2 separate regions of the Homo sapiens genome follow, and region 2 is linked to region 1. Evidence: fine-mapped expression QTL. Tissue or cell type: hippocampus. Region 1 holds a variant in brackets; the other region holds the start of a gene. All regions are shown on one strand. Distances are between the middles of the regions.

Region 1 (8,155 bases):
TATTTCTGTTAAGTGATTACTCGAAGTTGGCTTGATTTCTACCCAACCCTAGTCTAAGTTACCATTTATTCTCACCTGTACTCCTGAAAAACCATCCTAACTGGCTTCTAATACCTGCCTTGGAACTTCTCTCCCACACAGTAGCCAAAGGATCTTTTTGAAGTGAAAATGTACTCATCTTTCCCCTGCTTAAAGCCTTTCAATGTCTTCCCAGTGTTCCTAGGATAAGGATAAAATTACTTAATGCAGATAAGTTCAGACTCTTTTGATTATAAGTAACAAGCAACCTAATTCAAGCTGACTTAAGCAAAAAAAGGAAATGTTATCGGGTAATTCTATCTAATAAGGCTTAGTAGACACAGGACTTTAAAAGATTTAATAAAGATATGCTTCCTCTCTCTACTTATTAACTCTTTTATGTTGATTCTTTTCAAATGAGATCTTTTCCTGTGGCTATAACACAACTACCAGCAACTCTGATTTGTGTGCTGTGGGAATAAACCCTTACCCCAGCAGTCTCAATCCAAGCCCTGCCATTCACTTTGATTGGACTAACTTAGGTCATGTGTTCTTCCCTGAACCAGTACTATGGCTATGGGAATAGGATATACTTAGGGGTCAAGGGCTGGATCACATGCTTTACCTAGATTCTGCCTCACAACAAACCACGTGGGCTGAGACTGGGGAAAGCACAGACTCTAGCAACAAATCTGGGGCTTTAAGAAGAGTAAATGTGTTGGGGGGACTACAGATCTTCTCTACTGTATATATGGCTTTACATCGACTATTCCCTGTCTATTCCTCCTGCTTCATCTAGCACAACATTTTGCTTCCTGCAATCCAGCCACACTGGTCTTTGCATCAGATAACTATTTCTGCATAACAAACAGCTCCCATACTAAATGCCTTAAAACCATAACTATTTACTGTGTCTCATCATGGATCAGCTTGGTGCTTTTGCTGATTGAAATTGGGCTTGATTATGCTCAGCCTCTCTCTGCATCTGTGATCAGGTCAGCAGAGGGCTGCTAGAACAGCCTTGGCTGGGATGACACAGTTCTTCTCCATGTAGTCTCTCATCCTTCAGTAGGTTAGTTCAGGTTTGTTTTCATAGTGGATTCAGGGGCTCAAGATAGCAAGCAGCAGTGTTCAATGTGTTTTGAGGCATATGTTTAGAACTGGCACTTCCACCACAAGCAACTCACATGGCCAAATTCAGGGTCATTATGGGAGGATACTAACACATTTCAAGACCAATGTAACCTTTTATTTATGGGCATTATTGATGGAGAATTAATGAAGCTCATGCACATGCTAATTTATTTATTGAATAAACATTTATTGAGGAACAATGACATACCAGTATGTATGAATGTAATCATGAATAAATGCAAAGGAGTGGAATCTAGAAAAAGAATGTTTGCTGAGAAAAACTAAGCAAATGAATACACTCATTGGAAAACTATTAATATGTGTGTTTTTTAAAAGAACAAAGAGAACCCCTCACAGAGATTTCTAAAATATGCTTTTATAGATATAAGCTATTGAGGAGGAGGTTGAATCAGTGTCAAAATGAAAAATTAAACCTGTTGAAATATGAAGAATATTAGAACTTGCAAAAAGAGAAATACGATTCAATGTAAATGATTCCGTCTGCTGCAGTAAAAATATTTATACGTTTCTCCATTCTACAAGTACTTCCATATTTCTAAAATGATGACCCTTTCCTTTTGAATAGGCTCAAGCCTTATGTGGAAGCCAGCTACAGAATTATAAGAAGTTTCAAAATGTATTGAGGGACTGCAGGATGATCACTCTTTGGGTAAAGAGGGGAGGCAATAAACTTCAGATGTTCATGGCTCTGTGGTCCTAATACTGGTAGCCTCTGAGGCTGGGGAGACTTAAAGCTAGCTGGGAGAAGGAAACTATTCATCAGTTACCCCTGTGGCAGCAAAGTTGCAATAAGGGTGGCAATTATTCACTCTTCCCTCTATCCATGCCCTTTGTATGTTACTTTACAGTTCCCTCACAATGTGAGCAGCTCAACCCTCAAGGGGTTAAGGAACCTAAACCTCAAGTCCCAAGATTCTAAAATTGGTGTTCTCACTGAATTCAAGTATTAAATGATACAATTTGAAAGGAAGTGAACTTGATCCTTAAAACCAGAATTCAAGTTCTGACTGTAAAATAACCACATTACTTTGGATAGTTCCCTTAATTTCTCTAACTTTAGCCTTTCCAATTCTAAAATGGATATGATCATGCTTGCGTCAGGCATCTTATGATAATTAGTGTCACACAAGACATATGTCTAAAGCAAAACATATGTGTTGTGGGTTGAATTGTCTTCCCCCAAAAGATACTGAAGTCCCCTCTACCTGTGATTGTGACCTCCTTGGAAATAGGGTTATTGCAGATGTAATCAAATTAAGATTAGGTGGGCCCTAATGCAATGACTGGTATGCTTATAAGCAGGAGATTCAGACACACACAGGGAGAAGGCCATGTGATGATGGGGCCAGGGATTGGAGTGATGTAGCTACAAGCCAAGACTTGCTAAGATACACTGGTGAACTACAGACGCTAGGAAGAGGTAAGGACAGATTCTTCCTTAGAAACTTCAGAGGAAGCATGGTTCTCCTGACACTGATTTTGGACTCCCAGCTTCCTGCATTTTAGACTTCTGACTATGAGAAAATGAATTTCTATGGTTTCAAGCCACTCAGTTTTTAGTACTTTGTTGTGGCAGCCCTAGGAATCTAATACAATGTGTATATTAGATACTATGCTAAATTACAGATTTTACAAAGAAGAAGTCAACTTGTTTGTGGGTATATGTGAGTCACCTTTGGGGACCCTAGAATACTGAGGGGGTAAAATGGTTTTTAGCGTTCTGATTTCTCGCAGGTAAAGTAACTAAGCTTGTGAAATTTGAATATTAATGTTAATGTGAACTCAATTTTATCCCCAGAAGAGTAAAGCATAGGGGATTTCTAGTTACTTAATGGAACAATAATATGTAAAAATATTTAATAATTACTCATATCTATCAAATCCCAAGTACTGTTTGCAGCATTTTTATGTATTAACTCATTTAAACCTCTCAGAAACACAGTGAAGTACTGGATTACTCAGGGTTTAACCAGGTCTAATGAGGAAAACCCTACTTCAAGTATTTAAATAGAAGAGAGTTAATGCAAGAAATTATCTAACAGGGATAAAACAGATGGGAAGCCAACAAGTGATGCTGAAGCAGCTTAGATGAGCAGCACCAGGAAGCTGCTGTCACCCCTAGGGTGGCAGGACAAAGGGAAGTAGCATGTTGCAGGTCAGAGCTGGGTGTCACCTGGTTTAGTTTAGAACCCTGGTGGGCCTACCCCAAGAGAGCTGTGGAGAAAGTACAGTTACTGCAGGAGAGCCTGCTCAAGGAGGAGAGGGACCCCTGAACTTTTTCCTTCCCCCCACCCTCCATTCTCCCATTAGTGCCACCCATTGGCTGATCCCAGTGGAAGCCAGTTGATATGTGACCCTGAGAAATGCAGTTTATACCCTTTTCAGCTTGTATCATAGGGGAGGCACTCCTATGATACAGAGCCGGAAAGGGCGTAAACAGTTCCAGGATCAATTAGGTATGTACTGCTATTACCCCCATTTTTGAGATGAAAAAACTGAGGAATAGATGGGTAAAGTAGCATACCAAAGGTCACTCAGCTGGAGCTGAGATTTAAACCCAGGCACTCTTCCCCCTGCCCACAGTACAACTATACTGTATTCAGGGAAAGACTGGAGGCAGGGAGCGCAGTGTAGGGATTATTATGATCACCCACGGGGCAGGAATTAGGACCAGGAGTAGGTTGGTATCTATGAAATTGAATAAACGAGATTTCTTTGAGAAATATTACAGAGAAATGAATGATTTGTTTAAGAAAATGAGAAAGGAAATGGCTTTTGACCATAGGAAAATATTTGAAAAGGGAGACGATTTATTTTAAC[C/T]GCAACAGTATTCAATTTCTAGTCAGAAAGTAAGTGAGGCAGTATGATGAGATAAAAAGTCCAATATTCATTATAACAAATTTTACCACTGCAAAATAATTTGAGATGTTTCTGAAAGCCTGCATGTCTCTTTTGTGAAACTTCCAAAAGTTGTTTCTCTTTTATGGCTTCCTTTTATCATCTGCCTTAAGACATAAGCTGGTTATGCTATTCTCAATAAATAGCAGTATTCTAAGATAATTATTTTCTTGGCAACCTGGAACCAGGAGCATAAGATGACAGTAGTAAAATTAGAACTGTTGCTTCTTGCACAATTTACTTTCTAGTCTAGGAGTCTTAGAATAAAATAAGAAATAGTTAATTAACTGGACTAGGAAAAACTGTTGCATTTTTCTTTTTTTAATGATTTGTTAGCTAAGTTTAATTAAGAAAATCAACAAGTCTGCTAGAAACTGATAATTACTTGAATAATGGGTGATACAAATCTTTTCTAAAAATGTAAGTTGCAAAAGAGGAAAAACCATCTAAAGGAAGCCTAAATGTTCTTTCTAATGAATGTGGCATATGGGAGAGATTGAATATACAGATTAAGTAGAGAGTGAGCAGTTATTTCAATGTAACCAAAACAAATGGCAATCTGGGTGATTCAGATAACTCTGAATTCTCTTTTACTTCAATAGCTGCATTTTCACATTGACCTGAATTATCCATATGATTGCTTTCGCTGTCTCCTTTTCTCTGCCTGTGCAGATAAACATAGGGTGTGATGACTTCCATCTCATGTAGGTGAGCTAAAGCAAAACTATCCAGTAAATGCTAGTTGAGTAGATCTGAGCTTTTCTTTAGCATTAGATATTATTTAAGGACTACCTTCCTTCCCTGTGTCAGTAATGGAGTATGAAAGGGATACTAGCCCTTGGTTTCAGGCAATAAAAATTATGCTGGTTTAGGGGTGTCTGCATAGTTTGAATTATAAACATACCTGTCAGTGTAATTTATTCAGGCACAGTTTGGACAATCACTGGTCCAGGGCCATTGTAAAAAAATGGTTTTAAGTTAAAGATCTAGTTGGATTAATTAATTGAAGTTCCATTCAATTCTGTGATTATATGAACACATAAAATCTCAAACATTTGTCTTTCCATGCATGATTGAGTCTTGGAATAAAAGCAGTCATTTGATGGCTTTAGCTTCTGTGGGGAGTGATCAATAAAGTGATTCTGAAAAAACAGATGCTTGTGTCCATTTTGTCCCATTCTATTGTGGCTCCCTTTATGTATATTTGGATGACAATTCTAGCAATGGAGCTCTTTCTCTGACACAAATCATGGAATTCACATAAGAGTGCAGAGTTTTGATTGCTAAGGGAAGTGGATTTTACTGTGACCAGCATTTACAGTCCCAGAACATCTGCAGAGCTGCTCAGGAACATGATAATGAAGCAGAACATCTGCAGAGCTGCTCAGGAACATGATAATGAAGCAGAACATCTGCAGAGCTGCTCAGGAACATGATAATGAAGCAGAACATCTGCAGAGCTGCTCAGGAACATGATAATGCATCAGAACATCTGCAGAGCTGCTCAGGAACATGATAATGAGGGAGAACATCTGCAGAGCTGCTCAGGAACATGATAATGAGGGAGAACATCTGCAGAGCTGCTCATGAACATGATAATGGACCAGAACATCTGCAGAGCTGCTCAGGAAGATGACAATGGAGCAGAACATCTGCAGAACCACTCAGGAACATGATAATGGAGCAGAACATCTGCAGAACCACTCAGGAACATGATAATGGAGCAGAACATCTGCAGAGCCGCTCAGGAACATGATAATGGAGCAGAACATCTGCAGAGCTGCTCAGGAATATGATAATGGATCAGAACATCTGCAGAGCTGCTCAGGAACATGATAATGGATCAGAACATCTTCAGAGCTGCTCAGGAACATGATAATGGAGCAGAACATCTGCAGAGCTGCTCAGGAACATGATAATAGATCAGAACATCTGCAGAGCTGCTCAGGAACATGATAATGGAGCCCAGTGAATAATGTTCAACATTTTGAAAAAGTTGAAGTGAATTTAAAAATAAGAAACTTAAAATTCCAAATATCCAATTGAAAGTTGTTTGTGTCTATGACTAATAAATACTGAGAAATCCAAACTTAAGTGCAGTATAAGTGGATAAAAAATTTTAAAATATGGGATTTGCGGGACAAAATATGTATGTAATATTAAAGGAGTTTGACTCCCTGATCTTGTCCAACCCTTTGTTTTTCTTGGGGGCAACAATAGAGGTCAGAGTAGAAAGCGGCTTACCTAAGGTCATAGAGATGTGTGGTAGTAGTGCTAGTATCAGACATGAAATCTAGAGATTTCTAGTGAGCAAAGACCAGAACTCACATGTTAACAACTTTCTGAAAGAGAATCTAGGAATCAAATCTAGGAAGCTTTTTCATCCTCAGTGGCATCTGGATTTACCCAGGACATTTTTATCCATGAAAATATTCTGTTATAAATATTTTCAAAATCATCTCTTCTAAAAGTTACAAAAAACAGGTGCATTTTACACTTGGCAAAACTGTGTGTATATTCCTTTGTTTATGTCTACCTTTTACAGATAAAGCTTTCAGTGAATAAAGCTTTCAGAAGCCACGAAGACAATACAAAGCCAATTATCTCTTATTGTGAAACTGTAAAGATGAAAAAGAGAACACAGAAAATAACTCTAAAGCTCCAAATTGAAGAAGTGAAGAATTGAGGTTAAGTATCTACATAATGAGGTTTATTGAAACTCTATAATTAAAGATAAGCAGATAATTTAGATGCACTTAAATATTATTGAGGTATTATATTTCATCTAATTTAAGAAACTATATTCGTTAGGGTCCAGATATGAAAAGATAAACCACGCCAGGTATTTCAAATAGAGACAATTTGATACAGGGAACTGGTTATGCAGGACGCTGTTCCTACCTAGATATGGTAAATGGACGCTGAGGCTACCTAGATATGGTAACTGCTGATACCATGATAAAGAATAAAAATAGGTTCACTGACCTAGGAGCTTGGCCCTGTGAGTCTGGTGTTTGAACCTCTAAGGGGGTTACAATGTGGCTGACATGGGCATGGCTGGCCATCTCTCTAGGGGCACACTGTATGGCTGGATCCAGAACTGCCAAAAGAATCCGAAGGCTGTAACTGCAGCTGTCCTCTGTTATTTGAGCAAAGCTGATAGGAACTGGAAACAAAAAAAAGTTGTTTCTCCTCTCTTCCCACCTTCCAGTGTCCCTGTTAGAGACAGGATACAGTGAGAAGCTGGCCACCTGCAAGCCAAGGAGAGAGGCCCCAGGAGAAACCAACCCTGCCAGCAACTTGATCTTGAACTTCCAGCCTCCAGAACCATGAGAAAATCAATTTCTGTTGTTTAAGCAATTCAGTCAGTGATATTTTCCTATGGCAGGCCTAGCAACCTAACGCAAGCAGAAAATCATTTTAAATAGCATTTAAAGTCAGCCCCTAGAGGACCAACAATTCACACAGCTCCTCAAAGGGCCAACTGTGAACATCTGTGACCAAAATTTACACCTGTGCCAGCAATCAGAACTACATCATAATTGTAGCCTGTCCAACTATAAGATATAGCTCAATTTCTGAGATGTAAACAGGAAAAAAAAGTCTGCATTTTGAACTTCATGAGATACAGTCATTCCCTCAGTTTTTCACCTTTCAGGTGCCACAATTTCTTGTCAGGTCTATTTCTTAGAGGTCTGTTTTCAGTGGTCTTTGTTTTTATAAACATTTAATATTTAGTGAGTTCTAAACGTGTGTTTAAAAGAATTTAGGAGCTACTTTCTTTATGTAGTCATTGACTTGGGAATACAAATAAGAGAAAATGGGTAATTTGGTATTGAATTGCAAATTAAAAGCAACCTATGTAGGTAAAATTTTAATACACAAATCGAGAAGCCTCTTACCACAGAATAATTTAGTCTATGCAAGCAAATGGAATCCTAATGGTGCCAAGTGAGGAGGAGCTGTGGCTGAGGGAGGAAATAAGTGTGAAGGCCCAATTCATGGATTGATTCAACTTCTGTTTGGGCAGAAAGAAGCCTGGAGTGGGGAATTTTGCTTAGTAGTTTACAGCAGCAATTTTTGC
Region 2 (8,092 bases), 290 kb before region 1:
TCCCACCTCAGCCTCCCAAGTAGCTAGGATTACAGGGGTGCACCACCACTCCTGGCTAATTTTGCATTTTTTAAGTAGAGACAGGGTTTCACCATGTCGACCAGGCTGGTCTCGAACTCTCGACCTCAGGTGATCCACCCGCCTCAGCCTCCCAAAGTGCTGGGGATTACAGGCGTGAGCCACCGCACCTGGCCCAAGACATATTCTTGACACAGACAGTATGGCAATAAAAGGAAGACATAAATTTCTTTTACCATAATTAAGATTTTGAATAGTACACTTGGGACAAGTAACCAGCACATGAAAAGTTTTGGTTTGAGATTTTTAATTACTTTGATAAATCAGAATTGTTTAAAAAAAATTAAAAGAATGTAAGGTTAAGCTAATCATAGTATTATATTCAAAAGACCCTCAGAACATAGTTTAGGATGATAAGTTTCATACCTGACACCAACTGCCTTAAAGTGATAGTGACTTCTTTAAGTACTATGTTAAGGAGGATTCTGAGGCAGTATCTGGGATCCATAGGAAGATGTACTTCCATAAGAAGCCACCTGCCCTGGGGTATGATATGGTGAGTAGGCAAATGCTAGCAAATGACTTATCAACTTTGTCCTATCTACACATGTTCTCTAGGTATTCTGACGTAAAAACAAAACCAAAAACCAAATATTTTAATTTTATAAGTTTTAACAAATTTTGCATTTGTTTTTCACCAGTCAATTGCCTATTGGCCAAAGTGTCATAAATACTAAATGAATGTTTTTAAACTTTTCCCTAATTTCAAAAATCATGTTTATTACAGAATATTCAGAGACAAATGCTCTATTTTTTTTGCTATTCAAAATGTCCACAGATTGGTGCTAATCTACAAATTATTTGTTACCCATACACAAGTAGTACAGAAATTTTTTCTTTGTTTGTTTACAAGTGCATAAAAATGAAGCAAGAAGTAGAGAAATTGAATGTTCGGTATACAGCAATTTGATATTGCCATGAAATTTTCAGTGTATTTTACAAAAGTTATAGGTCCATAAGGGATTGGAAATTAAAACAAAAACATTGTTCTTTACTATATGTAATTTGAGAATCACAGATGGTTGTGAAATACAAAGAAAATTTTATTCTCAACTCTTTATTCTGTGTATTAGATTAGGGTTTCTCAGTCTCAGCACCATTAACATGTGGGGCCTTTTCTCAGTGGAGTTTCCTTGTGCACTGCAGAACATTCGCATTCCTGGCTTCCATGCTACACTGTCTCACAAGTGAGCCTCTCTTTCTTATCACTTAAGAAAACTGAACTATAAAATAATCCTACATTTATCAAAGCTAGTTTTCGATAAATGGGGCATCTTTTCCTGACACTCAATGTATTTCACAGGGTGATAAACATGTCAGTACCACCAGGATGATATATCCTACTGGTTCAAAACTGCTTGAGCTATTTTAATCTATTCTTTTCCTCACAGCTTTCAGATCTCTACATGCTGGGTCTTTCTCTGGGCTAATTTTCTAGTTTCTTCCTGCTTTCACAATTGTTTAAAAATTCTTATAAAATACACATCAGTTCTCATATAGTTTTTGTTTTGTTTTTTAAAAAACAAAGTGTTGCTCTGTCACCCCGGCTAGAGTGCAATGACGCCATCAAAGCTCATTGCTGCTTAGAACTCCTGGGCTCAACAATCCTCTGCCTCAGCCTCTGAAGTAGCTAGGACTACAGGTGAGCCACCACGCCTGGCTATTTTTTTTTTTTATTAAGAGATGGGGTCTCACTGTGTTGCCCCGGCTGCAATCCTTCTACCTGGGGTGTCCTAAAGCCCTGGTACTACAGGTTGGAGCCACTTCGACTGGCCTTTGTTATTTTGATATATGTTGTTACCATTTAACTATTGATATACAATATAGATTTTCCTCTTTAGTTTCTAGTGAGCATTTTTTTTTTCTTTTTTGAGAAAGGTCTCACTTCGCCATCAAAGCTAGAATGCAGTGGCATGATTATGGGCTCAAGCCATCCTCCCACCTCTGCCCTCCAAGTAGCTGGGACTACAGGTGTCTGCCACCACGCTTGGCTAATTTTTTAATTTTTTTGTAGAGACGGGGTTTAGCCATGTTGCCCAGGCTGGTCTCAAACTCCTAAGCTCAAGCAATCCGCCCACCTTGGCCTCCCACAGTGCTGGGGTTACAGGTGTGAGCCACCGTGCCCAGTGAGCAATTTTATTTTTATATCATCTCTGGACCTCACATTAATCTATTTTTCTCAGTAAAAGTATACTGCAAACAGGCTCCAGCAATGACAGTCACATCCAGTTCCTCAAATTCTTTTTCTTATTAAGTATGTTGAGTAAACTGACCGTGGTTTTGTGTATAGACTGATACCAAAGGCCTGACCCTAAAGCCCTCAAAGACTTAGAGGGCTGTAGGGACATTAGACTTCAAACCCATCATATCCTCTTTCCTATCCTTGGAAAAGCAACGCACAAAGACTTTCTTAAACTCTTAATTTCTCAGCATTATTCCAGTGTGTCCACTATCCTTTGCGCTCATTGTCACACCCCTCATCTTTCAGAATCTTGAAGCTGTGAGGCGGAGGTTGCAGTGAGTCAAGATCGCGCCACTGCACTCCAGCCTCATCAACAAGAGCAAACTCCGTCTCAAAAACGAAAATCAGCAACGAGCCATTAGTAAACATTCATAATGAAGATTATGATGCTAAATGTCATTATTTGCATGCAAAGGTTTCCCCCTCATACTAAACCTCAGCATTTTGGGTTTCACTAGATTTAAAGCAGAAGTGAGGCTTCATTACAAGGCCACCTCTCTTTTCTGACTAGTGGGGTTTTAAATAGCCTGGTGGCTTTCCAGGTGGTAAGTCTCAGCTAATGGGCTCTGGAGAACCCAGCCTATCAGTTCATTTATGGAGTCCCTTGGCATCCTTGTACTGTGAAGAGCTGTAAGGCCTCAAAGAGTAAAAAAGGTGAGTTGAGAAGGTGTCACAGAGCACGAAGGTGGTCCCCACACAGGTCACAATTATGTAGCTGTGAACAGGCCACATGTTGCATCTTTCATAGCATCTGCCACAAAATAAGGGCTCAATATATTTTCCCTTCAATTTACTTTAAAAATCATTACCATTGCCTAAATGAAATATTACTGACATGGATTTTAAAAACTGCACATGTAACTAATGTCTAAAATTGGGTCACGTGAAACCTATAACCTTGAAACTGAGAATTTCCTTTTAGACTTCATGACAATATACCAAACACTTAATGCACCAGGGGCTGAGGGGAACAGAGAACCTAATTAATCACGGTGACCTGATAAATGAGGTAACACCCCTAAAGCAAGTGGCTCTCCTTTAACCTCAGTTCCATTTCCCTACCCCCCCACACCATGTCCCTTCAGATCATTTGATCTGAAGAGTTGAGGTGGGTACTTATTCAAAATGAATAATCAAACTTGCCTCCCAATTCCCAAAATCTGCAAGGTCCCTTAGACCTCTAGAAGTGCAATTTTGCTGACAGGAGAATGAAGGAAATTACTCTCATCCAAGGCGATTACCTCCACGAATTCTTAAAGGGTTATGTTACATAGTAGAATCCAGGTATTAATATAAAAACTGTAACTTCAAAATACTATAATGTTTCAATCAACAAAAGTGGGCAGAAAAAAAATTAAAAATTTTAAAACCCACCACTTCAGAAGCATTATGCTTTAGTACTCGGATAGTCTCAACATGGGAAGAAAACATCACTTTGTCAGTGAGTAACTTCTGATAAGTATGTGGAAATGTAAGCCACTCCGCTCGAAAAATGCACGCAGGGGGAATGACACGCGCGGTGCGGTTACCGTTGTGTCCCGATATCTGAGGCCGTTAAACGACGAGAAGAGCGGCAGTGTCTGAAGCACGCCTTCCTACCTCTCCTCCGCCCGGCCCCGCTTCCGGGACTCCAGTTCACCCGCAGCACCCTGACTGCAGGTGCCAAGTCACAACTGCAAAGAAACTTCCTTTTCTCGAGCGGGGGTGGGACTTGGCCGGGTCCCGAGGCCCCTGGCCGGCGGGCTCGGACGTTAGGAGCAGAACCAGCTCCAGGTCCCGGTCTGTCCGGGCGTCGCTGCCCTCTGAAGCTCAGGCCGGACGCCCCAGTCCCTGGCCGAACAAGGTGCCGCGGCCCACCCACCCCGGTACCCGCCGTCCGACCCCGTTGCCCTGCACCTGAGGATGTTGTCAGCATAGGTGAGCAGCAGCTTGGAGGCCTCCAAAAAGGTCTCCGGGGTGTTCTGGCAGAGCTCAGCCACGGCCGGGGACGCCGAGCCTGAGGAGCTGCCCAATGCCGCCGCCGCCATGCTTGAGCGCCAGCGGGCGCCGCCGCCGCCCCTCGCTCTCCGCGTCCCACACTGAGCAGGCGCCTCAGCGCGCAGCAGCTACCGCAGCCACCGGCAGGGGCGGGGTCCTCGGCCGGCAGGGGCGGGGTCCTCGGCCGGCAGGGGCGGGGTCCTCGGCCGGCAGGGGCGGGGTCCTCGGCCGGCAGGGGCGGGGTCTTCGGCCGGCAGGGGCGGGGTCGGGGGCCTGGGGCGGGGTCGGGGACCGGGGCCAGGAGCGGGGGAGCTCGGCTGGGAGCTACGGCTGCCCCTTCGCGGGGGGCAAGGGGCTGTTCGGAAGAAGGTGGGGGGCCTCGGCCGGCAGGGGCGAGGTGCTTCGACCCAGAGTTGGGGCCTGGTCGTACAGGTTGGGAAGGGGTTCCGCAGGGAGAGGCGGGGCCTGGGCTCCGGGGCTGAGGGGTGTGGGCCTGGAGGAGGGGGATGTCGAGTCCTTTAGGACGGAGGAGCTCGGCTGGAGGGGAGGCCGGCTTTGGTCTAGAGGTATCGGGCGAATGGTGCTGGCACGTGCCTCTCAGAAACCCGGATCCCTTTGCGCTCCGGGGCCAGCCTAATTGATCCAGCTATTAAGGTGGAGAAACCGCATGTACCTCCCTCCTTTCCCCACAAATAAAACCACCTTAGAGCCTTCTCTTCGCAGATTGTCAGGACGTTCTACATAGATGTGGATGAAAGACTACAGAAGGAAGGAGCAACAAACGTCAAAAACAAAACCATGGCTATAAACTCTGCTGGGTTTGTTATATGGATTCTTTTCAGAATTTGGCTAATGACTGAAAATCTAAGTTCCAGCTCAACTAGTATATGATTCCTCTGTAAGGAAGTGTATTTTTAAACCATAGGTTGCGACATAATAATGGGTTGTGGATTCGGTTTACCGCGTGGTGACCAGCGTAAAACACATGCATAATAATTACGCAATATTATAGAATGTCGGGGGCGGGAAGGGAATAAAAATTTGCATCCCACACAGTAAGGGTAAGTAATATTTTGTGACTTGTTTTTTAGGTAGATCATGTGATCAAGGTCTTTTATTCCTCTTAGAAGATGCATCCCTTACTACTTTAATCCAGTCTCTTCCCCACCATGTTCTTGAAAGTGTACTTTACCAGTGGCTTCCTTCTTTGCAGAAATTCCTTTTCAACCTCACGAAGTATTTTTCTTGACTTTATTTCTTAAGATAAGTGATTTGCCTGAATAACCTCTTTTAAATTTCTTGATGTTTCATCTGTTTACTTTTAAGAATTGAAATTTTCTTCCAGAATCTCCGAACAAGACCCTAAGCTATGACATCCAGTTCAATGACTATTCGTCTCCCAAATATACGTACGCTTTTAATAAATATGTAAATCTTTGGACCACCTTCCAAGTATGGTGTGTTCAACAGATAGTAGTATGTTACTACCGTCTGTAACTAAAATTTTCAGGGGCTTAACACAAGAGTAATTTCTTTCTGGCTCATATAACACTTTAATAATGCAGGTGTCATAATGTCAGTGGACCCAGTCTCCTTCCATACCTTAGAACAGGGGTCAAGAAACATTTTCTGTAAAGGGCCACATAGTGTTTTAGGCTTTGTGAGCCATAAGGTCTGTCTCAACTATTTAACTCTGCCTCTGCAGCTGTTGCTCCACAGACAATACTTGAAAATAAATGGGCATGGTTATGTTCTAGTGAAATTTTATTTACAAATCCAGGCAGCCTGCTTGGACAAAAAAAAAAAAAAAAAAAAAAAAGTCACACCTACTTTTAACCACATGAGCCCAGAAATGACACACAGCATTTTCTCTACCATATCATTACTAAGAATGAGGCCTCATCAAGATAAAAGGGGGTATTTCAGTAAGGCCAGATTTACAAAAAATAAAAAAAAAATTTAAAAACACATAAAAAGATAAAAGGGGAGAGTCTGGGAAATGTAGTCTCGTCCAACTACACAATGGATTGGGGGCTTGGGTCTGGAGATATAGCTATCACAAACTTTATTCCTCTTAATTTGGGTTTCTTTTTCCATTGATACATTTATTTATCCTTTACTAATTATATGAGAATAGTATATATTATACAGTACTTGTAACTTTTAAAAATGCAACAGAACTTTTTTTTTTTTTTCAAATAAAATTTTAGGGGCTGGACATGGTGGCTCACGCCTGTAATCCCAATACTTTGGGAGGCCGAGGTAGGTGGATCGCTTGAGCCCAGGAGTTCAAGACCAGCCTGGGCAACATGGCAAGACCCCATCTCTACAAAAAAAAAACAAAAACAAAAACATAGGAAGATTGTCTATATACAAAACACCAAAGTGGAAATGCTCTGGTATTGAAGCAGAGGTGTCAAGTGAAGGGCAGAAAGCTGTCAGCTAAGGCTTTCCCCTGACAGATAGAATGGTCATAGGGTACTTTTGTGGGGGAACAAAATGACTTTTGTTTTTCTCTTCATAATAGTTTGTTTCCTCAACTAAAACGCTATCTCACTGTAAGTTATCATTAGTTTTGTCTTCCCTATTTGATTAAAAGTCTCTTGTGCCATCTGTCTCAGACTGCTTTGCACACAGCAGGTACTGAATAGAGTTGTTGGTTAATCACTCAATGTAGTCACACAATAGTGAATCACTATACAAATTCCTGAAAGACTTCAACTCCTCCCCTTGCTAATGGTTTTTATGGAGGTTAACTTTTTAATATCACCAAACCAATCGTGGGGAAAATTTACAGAGTTCTTTCTTTTTTGTTTTATTAAAGAATAGTGTTAGCCAGGCGTGTTAGTGCACACCTGGAGTCCCAGCTACTTGGGAGGCTGAGAGGCAGGAGAATCGCTTGAACCCAGGAGGCAGAGGTTGCAGTGAGCTGAGGTTGCCCTACTGCACTCCAGCCTGGGTGACAGAGCGGGACTCTACCTCAAAAAAAAAAAAGAATAGCGCCATGATATGTCAACTCTAAAAATGATGTTTTTAATAAAGGTGAAATCCTGGGGAAAAAAAAAATCTTTATTTTGGAACAAAAATAAATAAATAAAAGAACAAGAATTTCAATGCTGATTTAGTACCCATTCTTTGGTTGTTTGAAACAACGATGGGTATAAAAGTTAGGGTAGCTTATTCAGCTTTTCTAAAGGAAATGGAAGAATTAGAATATCTCCAACTTGACTGAAGTGGGGGAAGCAGCCAGGAAAATGAGAGACCAAGTCCCTTTATATAATGGATTCCCTTAATAGCTTTATAAATGGCAATATTCAAAAGAGATTACAGTTACTCAAGAACTTTAACAGAAGTGTTGCTAAAGAGTTATTTGGAAGGACTTAAATTTCAGATGATTTTTTTAAAATGGTGATTTCCATGATTTTATGGACTGTACATTGTTATCACAATATTAATGCTATGGCATTGGTTTTCGCAAAAGTCATTTGGTGAGAAATGCACAAAAAGTGCATGTGTACTATCAAATGTAAGGATAAATGTTGATTTATTCATTCCATAATTCATTCATTCATCATGTATTTATGAAGTGACTACTAGTTGCTCAGCACTGTGAAGGAGACAAGTATGGTCCCTACTTTCATAGAAGTCATAAGTTTAGAGCAGTGGTTGGACAAGCAACAGCAGCATCAGCAGGAAACTTGTCAGAAAAACAAATTCTGAAGCTCCACATTTAAAGGTGGGACCCAGCAATCTGTGTGGTAACAAGCCCTTCAGGTGATTTTGATTAACAGTAAA

Evidence for each region. PIP is the estimated chance that this variant, and not a neighbour inherited with it, causes the effect.
Region 2: it holds the start of NGLY1, and the variant in region 1 is fine-mapped to the expression of NGLY1 in hippocampus (GTEx, PIP above 0.99). The same link has a PIP of 0.9 or more in pituitary and unexposed skin.

The regions. Positions count from the first base shown.
Region 1 is chr3:26,073,973-26,082,127 of GRCh38, forward strand. It overlaps LOC105377001 (a long non-coding RNA gene), which reads left to right. Exons shown (of 3, transcript XR_940662.2): 3 at 6,617-6,750. Among named protein-coding and RNA genes, the nearest start is that of LINC00692, 200 kb to the left of the region's middle. The variant C/T (reference allele first, on the strand shown) is at 3,994.
Region 2 is chr3:25,779,044-25,787,135 of GRCh38, forward strand. NGLY1 (N-glycanase 1) reads right to left here and starts at 4,400. Exons shown (of 12, transcript NM_018297.4): 1 at 4,217-4,400. The coding sequence starts at 4,347. RefSeq lists enhancers at 2,193-2,362, 3,750-3,829, 3,990-4,039 and a silencer at 4,350-4,589.